Regions from separate parts of the Homo sapiens genome. Here all the other regions are reported to be linked to region 2. Evidence: microRNA targets listed by miRTarBase, many of them from high-throughput screens and not tested one by one. Region 2 holds a microRNA gene; each other region holds the end of a gene's coding sequence.
Evidence for each region. Region 2 holds the annotated microRNA hsa-miR-605-3p (AGAAGGCACUAUGAGAUUUAGA, at 948-969, opposite strand). A microRNA usually pairs through its seed, bases 2 to 8, with sites in the 3' UTR of a target mRNA and lowers its output. Matches are read on the target gene's strand: a 7mer-m8 pairs with bases 2 to 8, a 7mer-A1 pairs with bases 2 to 7 and ends in A, and an 8mer does both.

Region 1: miRTarBase lists ATXN7L1 as a target of hsa-miR-605-3p. Seed matches in the 3' UTR shown: 7mer-m8 at 2,039-2,045 and 7mer-m8 at 186-192.
Region 3: miRTarBase lists CANX as a target of hsa-miR-605-3p. Seed matches in the 3' UTR shown: 7mer-A1 at 1,478-1,484.

The regions. Positions count from the first base shown.
Region 1 is chr7:105,604,832-105,608,094 of GRCh38, forward strand. ATXN7L1 (ataxin 7 like 1) reads right to left here. Exons shown (of 12, transcript NM_020725.2): 12 at 1-3,059. The coding sequence ends at 3,021. Among named protein-coding and RNA genes, the nearest start is that of EFCAB10, 25 kb to the left of the region's middle.
Region 2 is chr10:51,297,329-51,300,591 of GRCh38, reverse strand. MIR605 (microRNA 605) reads right to left here and starts at 1,019; the gene lies at 937-1,019. The region is part of intron 2 of PRKG1 (protein kinase cGMP-dependent 1); the gene reads right to left.
Region 3 is chr5:179,728,163-179,731,391 of GRCh38, reverse strand. It overlaps CANX (calnexin), which reads right to left. Exons shown (of 15, transcript NM_001746.4): 15 at 1-2,801. The coding sequence ends at 2,748. Among named protein-coding and RNA genes, the nearest start is that of MAML1, 3.0 kb to the left of the region's middle.

The DNA of each region.
Region 1 (3,263 bases), not on the chromosome of region 2:
CAGAGTTTTGTTAAAGTGCCATGGGCCGACAGCATAACAAAATATAAGGTGTAAATAGAAAATTTCTTTTTTTCCTTTTTTAAAACAAGAGTTCACTGAGAATCAGCAATAATAGAATATGCTGTATAAACTATTCTCTACAAAGGTTGATCAGCATTATTTACAATTGGTACATTGATACAAAAGAAGGCATACAAGTTATCCAAGTCGCTTTTTTTTTTTTTTTTTTTTTTTTATGGCTGACAGGTCTATGCATTGCGTTATGCTTCACAACCAGAGCTTTCGAGCCTCTATGGCTGGCGACAAGTCAGGAGATCTTCAGGCAAAGAGGGGTGTGTGCAGTCAAGGGGCTGGGAGAGAAGACTGAGTGGGTGTGCAGAACAGAAGGACCCAGAGGACATCACCCTAAAAATGTTTTATAGGCTGCTCCAGTTTAACTCCATTAAGACAAACCCAAAGAGAACCTTTTATTTGCATTCCATTTTTCAAGCTGCAAGTTTTTAATACATCATTGTAAAGTAAACCTGTGGTTGACTGCCAAGGAAGAATACTGTGGGCTTTCCCTTTTTGCCCAGTTTTCCAGAAATATCCTCACCTTGGTCATAGCCAGTCTTTTGACAAAGTAAGCAGCATTCGATGAGGGTGGGGGGGGGGGTGGGGGCTCTTTATTCCAGCTTCCAATTCAAGATGTAGAGAGCTACAATGTCTAAACCTATTGAATTGCTCCTTTAGTCCTTGAGACATTATTTCTCAGAAGCAGCCACTTAATCTCTCAACCTTTGTTTTCCCTCTTTGACTATAAGAGTTTATAAATCAGAGGGTTATTTTGTTGTGGAGATTTTGTTTTTTGTTTTTACTCCTGCAAGTTTTACAACTCAAAATAAATTATAAAAAACAACAGACCTCTGAAACCGAACAAGACAAAATTGTGCAAAAATAACAAAGATATGTACATACTTTTCAGTCTGAAGAAATGTACAATAAAAACATAATTCAAAGAACATTTTAAAAATATAAACATTGCTTAAACTTTCCTAAGTTTCATATTGTTTCTGAAACTATTCTGGTCAGTTAGCTCTGTAATATAGTAAAACATAAATTATTACAAAATTAACACTATAAAAATTTACTTTAAGAATATCTTCTAAACTTTTTTTCAAAGGGTCTAACCTTGTTTATAATTTCTTAAACATTTATAAGTCTTAAAATCTCCTTAACCTTTTTTTTTTAAAAAAAGAAAAAGTAACAATCATCCCTTCAATTTGCAGTCTCTTTTCCCAAGACGTAAATAAACCAGCATATAAGTGCACTTTTAACACTGTAGAAATAAAAATGAAATCATCCGAACTAATGTCCTGGTACTTAATATCAACTCCTGATTTTTAAACAAATCATTTTATATTAAAAAATTTAGTAATCCTATAAGAAACACTCACTGTCAGTGCAATTCCATTGATGAAAATCACTCCATTTGCCTCCCGTCTTTGCAATTCCAATTGTGTGGTGAAACTTAACAGTAGTCTGATCTTTGGGTTGGGGGAACGGGAAAGAAAAGGAAAACTTTGGGGTGGGGATGAGGGTTCTGCCCAGCTATGAAACTAGCATTCATTTCTGATTTAAGGATGAAACAAAACCTCCCAGTATCTTTGCTATACATCATATACAAAGTTACATGATTAATAGCACAGAACACCTATTTTATGTTGTGAATTCCTTTCCTGATTATGATTCCCTACTAGAGCTTATGGTATTGCTGTTTCTTTTAAAACTCCAGTGTGAATAGTTCTATGGCTGCAGGGCTCCAGCGTGGCTCTTCCAAATGGCTGTTCTTCACTGAGCAGTGGCTGTCCTTACCATTCCTTCATGGGGATGGCTGTCTCTAAGACAGCAAAAGCTGATCCATGGGTGTGCTGATCCCACCAAGTCCCTGTGGCCCAGGGCATGGGGGTGGGTGGGAAATGCTATTATTTATTCTGACAAAAGGTTTGACACATACCCTTTTGTGGAAGCTCTCCCTGGGGGGCTCTTCCTAGCCCAGGAAGGCAGCCTAAGAACCTTTAGCAGCTGTGGTCACCGTGCCTCCTCATGGAGTGGCTTTCTGGGTTCTCACGACCTTTTTCCTGGGATTTCTCCCTCCTAGCTCACCCTGCTGTGGGCACTGGCACACTGATTCCTGGAAGGGATTCTGCAGATTCCTGACCAGCTCAGACCACCACAGTCTCCAGTTTTTTTAGGGATCATCTCCTACCCACCATGCTCTGCTTGCTGCCACCTTCCCAAACCTGTTCTGGCCCCTGTCCCTGACTGGTTTATCCTTTCTGAGCTGCACAGCTGGACAGTGGTATTAGGTAAACCACATCACTAAACGGCCACTGTTCTCAATCTCGCTTCTAGCATTTGGCTCCAGCCATGGTGGGCTGTGGAAACTGGATGAGGGAACCCCACCCACCCTCCAACTCTCCACTCCCAGCTCCTCCCCAGCAAAGCCCCCTCTCCCTGCACACAATCCTGAGGGGATCCTATGAGAGCCAGGTCCTTTGAAGACCAGTGAGGACCCAGAGAGTGGTAGACGTAGGGATGGAAGGAATCGGGTGGAGATGACAGGAAGAAAAAGGGCTCTGCCTGTGCTACAGTTCAAGAGCTTCAGAGCATGCCAACCTGGAACCAACATTCTGCAATGTCTGCTCTCATGGCTGGAGCAAAAGGATGGTACAGTAGCAGCATCAGGAGCTAGGGGAGTGACCCCAAATTTGGAAGAATGTAAAAACATGGCAAATGAAAGGAAAGACAGCGGAAACCAAACACTGGAACTGTTTTCTGTAAATCTCAAATTCACCTTCTTTTGCCTTTTTAACTAAAAATTGGTCAATTAAAAAAAGAAGAAGAAAGGCCAGAGTCACAGGGAGTGCACAGAAAACAGACTCTCCCCCCAGCCCACTCCCCTCCCTCCTCCTCCCCATGGCCTCCTCGGATGGGATTAGGTGGCCTGGAATTGATGTGGAAGTGGCTTCATAGTCTTGTTATGGAAGAGTCCTTATCCTGCCCGTTCTGTTTGTGTTCTTCTAGGAAAGAAAAGAAAAACTTGTTTCAAAACCATACAGTTGAGATTACCCATGAGAATTCAAGGATGGAGACTTAGTTTTCTCATCTATAATAGAAAGGACAATATCCCACCTCCCATATCCAGCAAAGGGCAGCTGGAATAGCAAGAGATGATGGATCTAAAGGACCCAATAGCAAATGAGGTGACGGATCCATGCATG
Region 2 (3,263 bases):
TATTTGCTGCAAAAGTAAACCACACTCAAGAGTAAAGCAAAATTCATCAGCAAGGCTATAATTTTGCAGAGAGAAATAAGAAGGGTGTATAATATTTAAATCGGAACTCAGCATCCCAGCAAAGAGCTTCTTAATCAAAACAAAAGAGAAAAAATCATTAAATACAGTAACCCACTGAGATTCACATGAAGGTATGTCCCACAACTTTCATAAATCCCGAATTTATGATACCACTATAATATACTATTACTCCACAAGAAGTAGATGTGAATAACACCCAAGGATTACTGTGTATGATACAGAAAACCAAAGAGAAGAAAAGCTGCATGGAGAGCAGCTGCTCTGACTGTGTGTGCAGTGCCTCATTCACCAACACACAATTCAAATTCAAGCCTCAGCAAAATAACTTGTCGTAAGCCATGATCCTCTATAAGGTCATCTTCAAATAGACGAAATAGTGACATTTAATTCATAAAGACAAGGTTCTACTCTCTTGCTGAGCAAGTAATCCAATCAACTGTGGTTTAGTTTCATCAACTTTGGAGAAAAGGCAATTTTCTTTCAAGATTTGACACCCTTCATACCCTCTGCCTATAATTCCAGATGGTAGGTGTAGGTGGTAGAAATGTTAGGTTGAGCAGAATGATAGTACCTAAAGAAGAATGAATAGTACCAGGAAATGCATGACTCATGGCATTCTAATTTTCTTGAAGTTCTTTTGTACATTTGCATCAAGATTTTCCACAAAATTCAATCCTGACTTTAATTGTAAATTAAAGAGTCCTTTATTGAATTTCTATTATTGCAGAGCAGTTACGCCACATGAGGTATAATAGAAGCTTATAATGTCATTGAGAGGCCAGGAAAAAACACATGTGCAGAGAGCAATATACCTGTGGCTGTCAGCCTGTAACATAGGTAACCTGTATCTGCAGTCCTAACTTGATTCTAAATCTCATAGTGCCTTCTCTGTTTTTCCCAAGGAGAAGGCACCATGGGATTTAGAACCAAGCTAGGGCTAGAGACATATGTTACAGGCTGTGAAAGTTCTACCAAAGTTCCTACTTTAAAGAATGAGCAAAAAGAGGCGGGGCATGGTGGCTCACACCTGCAATCTCAGCACTCTGGGAGGCCGAGGTGGGTGGATCACCTGAGATCAGGAGTTCAAGACCAGCCTGGCCAACATGGTGAAACCCCATCTCTACTAAAATTACAAAACTTAGCCAGGCATGGTGGAGGATGCCTGTAATCCTACCTATTCAGGAGGCTGAGGAAGGAGAATTGCTTGAACCCAGGAGGCGGAGGTTGCAGTGAGCCGAGATCGTACCACTGCACTCTAGCCTGGGTAACACAGTGAGACTCCATCTCAAAAAACATATAAAAATAAATACAGATAAAAAGAATGGGCAAAAAGAGATACTGGCTAAAGTCTTAAGCAATAAATTCATCAAAGGCAAAAAGACAGGTAAGTGTGTGTGGCTTTAAGGAACCATTAACTGAACCATTTTATTGGAGCAAAGGGCTCATTTAAAGGCATGAGTGAAAATGACAGATGGAGTAATGGTCATATTCCTTTCATTATTACACTTTAGACAACAAACCTTTGTGCTCCATTGCACTTAAATACCAGGAAAACACTTACCAAAGAACAATATTAACACATTTATGCAACCATATGATCTTTGCATACAGATCACAGCAATCAAGCTTCCAACCTTTTGTTGCATGCCTACTATGTGCCAGGAATTGTCCTAGCACTTCCCTTCCAATTCCCTATCCTATTTAATCGCTTCACATTCTACCACTCACACAAATTGTAGATTTATTTTACTCTCAGCCCACATAAAATACTCCAACCTAACAATTTTTAATTCTATCGGCATGATATTCTTTCATCCATCTAATGTTTCTACCTTAGATCAGAACCATTTCATATTTCAATTCCTACATTACCCCCTAGACTCCAGGCTTATAGTTTTATAAAATAAGATTGTAAAATAAAAACCCATCTTCTCCCTTCCTCCAGAAAAGGAGAGAAGTAAGTGTGTAATAGCTAACATTTATAATGATTTTACTATGCTGAGTGCTTTCTACATAAAGCTGTTTCATTTAATGGCTCAGCAACACTGTTGAAAAAGGAAGAACCTGGAGTATGGAAAGACTGAACAACTCCCACCAGGTTCATGTAATCAGTAATTGGTGGAGCTGGAATTTTTAATCAGGTCCAACTCAGAACCTAAATCTTTTAAGATCACAAGCTTAGTCATAATATTCAATTCAGTGCCTTTTCTTTGCCTATAAAATAAACCACATTTTTTGAAGTAGTGGCAATGTAACTCTTGAATTAGATTGTGTGGGTTCAGATTTCAAATGTATCATTTGCCACCTGTGCAAATTTGGACATCATAATTAATATCCCTAATCATGAATTTATCATCTATAAAATGGATAATATTAGTTTCTTTACACACCATTGTTATAAGGTTAGGAGATAATTCATGTAAAATGTATACAGGGCCTAATATAGTAAGTGCTTAACAAGAACTGATGAAGGAATAATGGTTAGGTACATAAATGAATGAGTGAATGAATTTCCTTTACATACATCTCTTTATATAAATATATCACTTATAGTAACAAGTGTAGGTAAGGACACCTACTCTATCCCTCATTGTTAGGGTTAAGAACTGCTTGCATTATTTTTTAGGAAAAGCCATTAAATGCCTTATACTAAAGAGAAAATAATGGGAGGCATTATCGTAATCATTATCATCATGATTTCATCAAAACTGATGAAAACCTATTACATGTAAGATATCAAGGTTAAAAAAGAGACATATGGCAAAGATGCCATCTTAAAACCTACATAGTAATGCAGTATGTGTAGATTGATCAGTGAATAATTAGATTGTACAACTGCAGTGGAACAAAAGTTCTACCATTCCTGTTGCTCATACATAGAAATGCACATGAGTCACCTACAAGCTTCCTGATTTGCTTTTGCTTTCTCCCCAGCTATTACCCAAACCTAAAAGTATGATTTTTACAAGTTAATAATTTTCTTTTAAGAGGTGTTGTCAAAGTTTCCTCTCAATCCTAATTTAAGGTAAGTATAAAATTATAATATGAAAATCCAAGAATTCACGTTTTAAAAGGAAAAAAGATAAACCAGTAGCAAAGAGCTGGTAACAGATGGCGACTTAGCAGTTAAAGCAGCATTTTTATTATATTCCAGATAGTAAAGTTTTTCTATGACTCTACTG
Region 3 (3,229 bases), not on the chromosome of region 2:
CTTTTCTTTAGTATGTAATCTAAAAATTTAATAGCACATAAAAAACTGGGCTAACTTTCAAAAATACCCCTAAAGTATTTAAGTATATGTAAAATAATGGAGTCTGATTCTGAACAAATAATTTTCTAATAAAAATTTCAAAGTTCAATGGTTCCCCTAAGTCTTAAAGAATATTATCTACAAATTATCAGTAGCATTCCCTCCTTTTCTGAGCTGCTGTCCACACTATTATACAACAGAAACTACTGCACCGCAATCACATGGGCAGGAAGAGGCAAGGGCTAGACAGAAAAGACTGCATCAAACTCACGTGGTGAGATAAAAGTCATTATTTCACTGTCCATAATAGTTTCTGCCTAGTAGTGAACTCTCACATAGTGGCCAATTATACGAAGATCAACCCACTAATTGAACATAGTCACACACACACACTGAAGGTTACTATGAAGAAATTCAGTCAAAAGCAGACACTTAACACAGGGCTTTAATGTAACACCATTTAGTAACATGACAAATTGAAAAGTGAGGAGTACTTTGTGGATAAGAAAATGGAGGAACACATCTGATGGAGAGTGGGCATTTGACAACAATGGAACAGGTAACCAGCATGTAAAATCAAAATATAAGTGTCTTTTTAAGAGCTGAAAGCTGCTGCTGGTCATTCATTAATGTGTCAGACATTTAATCAGGATGCTGGACCTTCAAAATAACTGAAAAAAGAACCAAGAAAAGGCGTTTTTGTTTTCAACAAACTTTACTAAATAACCCTGGAAAGGCAATGAACGATCTGACAATTTAAGCTCTAATGATTTAAAGCTCAGCTAGAAGAAAGTGAGGCATGACATATACTGTCAACGGAGGGTGAAGGAGGCAGATTTCTGGAAATGCAATGATCCCACACATTTGCTTCAAGGAGAAACCTGCAGACATATTTTCAGGTCTTGCTAAGTAACAACTGTTTATTTGTAATCAATACATTTGGGAAAGTCTGCTATGTAGCTAAGGTCACTGTGACCACAGAACAACAGATGAAAAGGAAAAAGCACTGAACAGCAAGAAAAATACATCCCATCCTCAAAAGAATTTAAGTGAACAAACTTTAAAAAGAAAAAAAAATAGATACAGCCTTCATCTTTTACAAATATATTTCCTTCCCAATATCTTCCCAATATAAACACTGTGGAGTGTTTATATATTCAGTGCAAGAAACAGTATCATCGGTACATTTGAAAGCCTCTAAAGAACAACTGAAGCTAAAATAATATCTAACTCTGAATACGTTTCAGTGTAGAGTAATAATAACATTATTACACTATAGTGGTGTGGGAGAGGCTCTGATAGCACCCATCTGCATCCCGCATGAAAAAACAAACCTAAGATCACTTTTTTAAAAATTCTACAAGCCACGTTAAAAAAAAATTTGAACAGGACTGCTTTATTGTGTAATTTATGACACAACTGTTACATGAATTGCAAATGAAGGCTTAAAATATATAGCAGCTACAAAAAAAATCAGATAACTCATGCTTCATGTCACTCCTCCCACAAATACTTCTAGTCTGTTCAACTGCAGTCAATTCTGTATTGGTTTGCCTGTGAATTAGACTTCTCAAGTCTTTACACAGAGTAAAAGAAATGGATAAAAATCAAAGTATTTTTCTGTACTTTGTATCAATGTATTCTATTCTGTACTTTGACCCTGGAAAGGTATGGGTCTGCTTAAAAGAAAGAAGAAACATACACGTAATCACAATAAAGCTTAACATTATGCAGGGCTTATAATCATTTTCAGCAACGGACTGCAAGCTGCACTGTGAAGAAAATGCATAGCAGAGGAGAAAGCTGGGGATCTGAGGAAATAGGTAAGGAAAACAGTGTCAACACACAGTGGAAGAAGTGATGAAGACATCTATTCCGGAGCTCACGTGCCATGCCCTGCTAGCATTCCTTAACAAGCCACCTGCTCCAGAAGGCCACAGCCTGACCCTCCCAAGTGGAATATAAATGCCCAAGTGCCACATGAAGCCACCTCCTCCACTACCTAAAAAGCTGTCTGGGAACTGAGCTACAGAACACACACACTTTCTGGTCTAACAAACATCAAGTGAAAGAATTTTTTCTTATATATCTATTTTTAATACAACTTAAACGCAACTTTTATATGAATTTGGGCTTCTATTCAGTCCCTCTCCTCAATTTCCTTAGGAGGAACTCAATAATGGAAGCAAACAAAACAAGATTCTAACCACAAATGACTGCACTTTAAACGTAATTATCAATTTTGAGGGACAGAGGTGTGAATGTTTTACAATACCAAACTTTAAAAAAAATCTATTATAAAAACTGCAACTCATCTCCCTAACATTTTTAAATGGTGGTATTATGTTTGCACAAACAGATTAATACATTAAATTAAGCCAAGATCTTAAAGACTGGCAAAGTTCTATCATTCTATTTTAAAAACAAAGATGTTAAAAAAAAAAAAGTTAGTTTGCTTCATGTTACATTTCACAACCATTATGTTAAATGTTTTCTTTTCTACAGAAACAGGGTCCTTTATATCACAACTGCAAGTATTTACTGCTAGATGTTTAAAGTTACACAGACTAGTGTTCAACTGGAGCCTGCTGATGGTGATGTCTTGAAGTTTTCTGAATGTCAACCTAAGGTGTGCCAGGTCCTCTCCTAGGACCACTCTTGCAGGGGAGGAGGGAGAAGAAATCACAGATCAAGCTCTTAAGATTGTTTCACTCTCTTCGTGGCTTTCTGTTTCTTGGTGATCTGTTCAAAATTTCATCCTCCTATTGATTGAAAAGAAATTCATTATAATTAGCACATTTAAAAAATAATAAAAGTTCACCATATTTTCAAGATCAGCCAGACTGAGGGTAACTTATTTGAGGAAAAAAATGAGGAAAATGATGAGAAGAAAATGCACCAAGAAGAATGGTTGTCTCAGAGGTGGTGGAATTATGCCTACTCTAATTCAGTTTAGTCTTTATTGTTTTCTATAAACATACACTTTTCTCAATCTAACCCATAAACATTTTCTTAAAAAAGGATCAGACACTGTGATTTCTTAATCTTGCTTAATCCCAAACAATCTACTGGCCTATGGCACACTAGCCCCATTCTGAGGATAAGAAACCAAGGATTCATGAAGATGGAAGGCTATCCAAGTAGACTGACTCCAAGGCTGCTGCTCTGTACTCTATCACAAGTTGCTAAG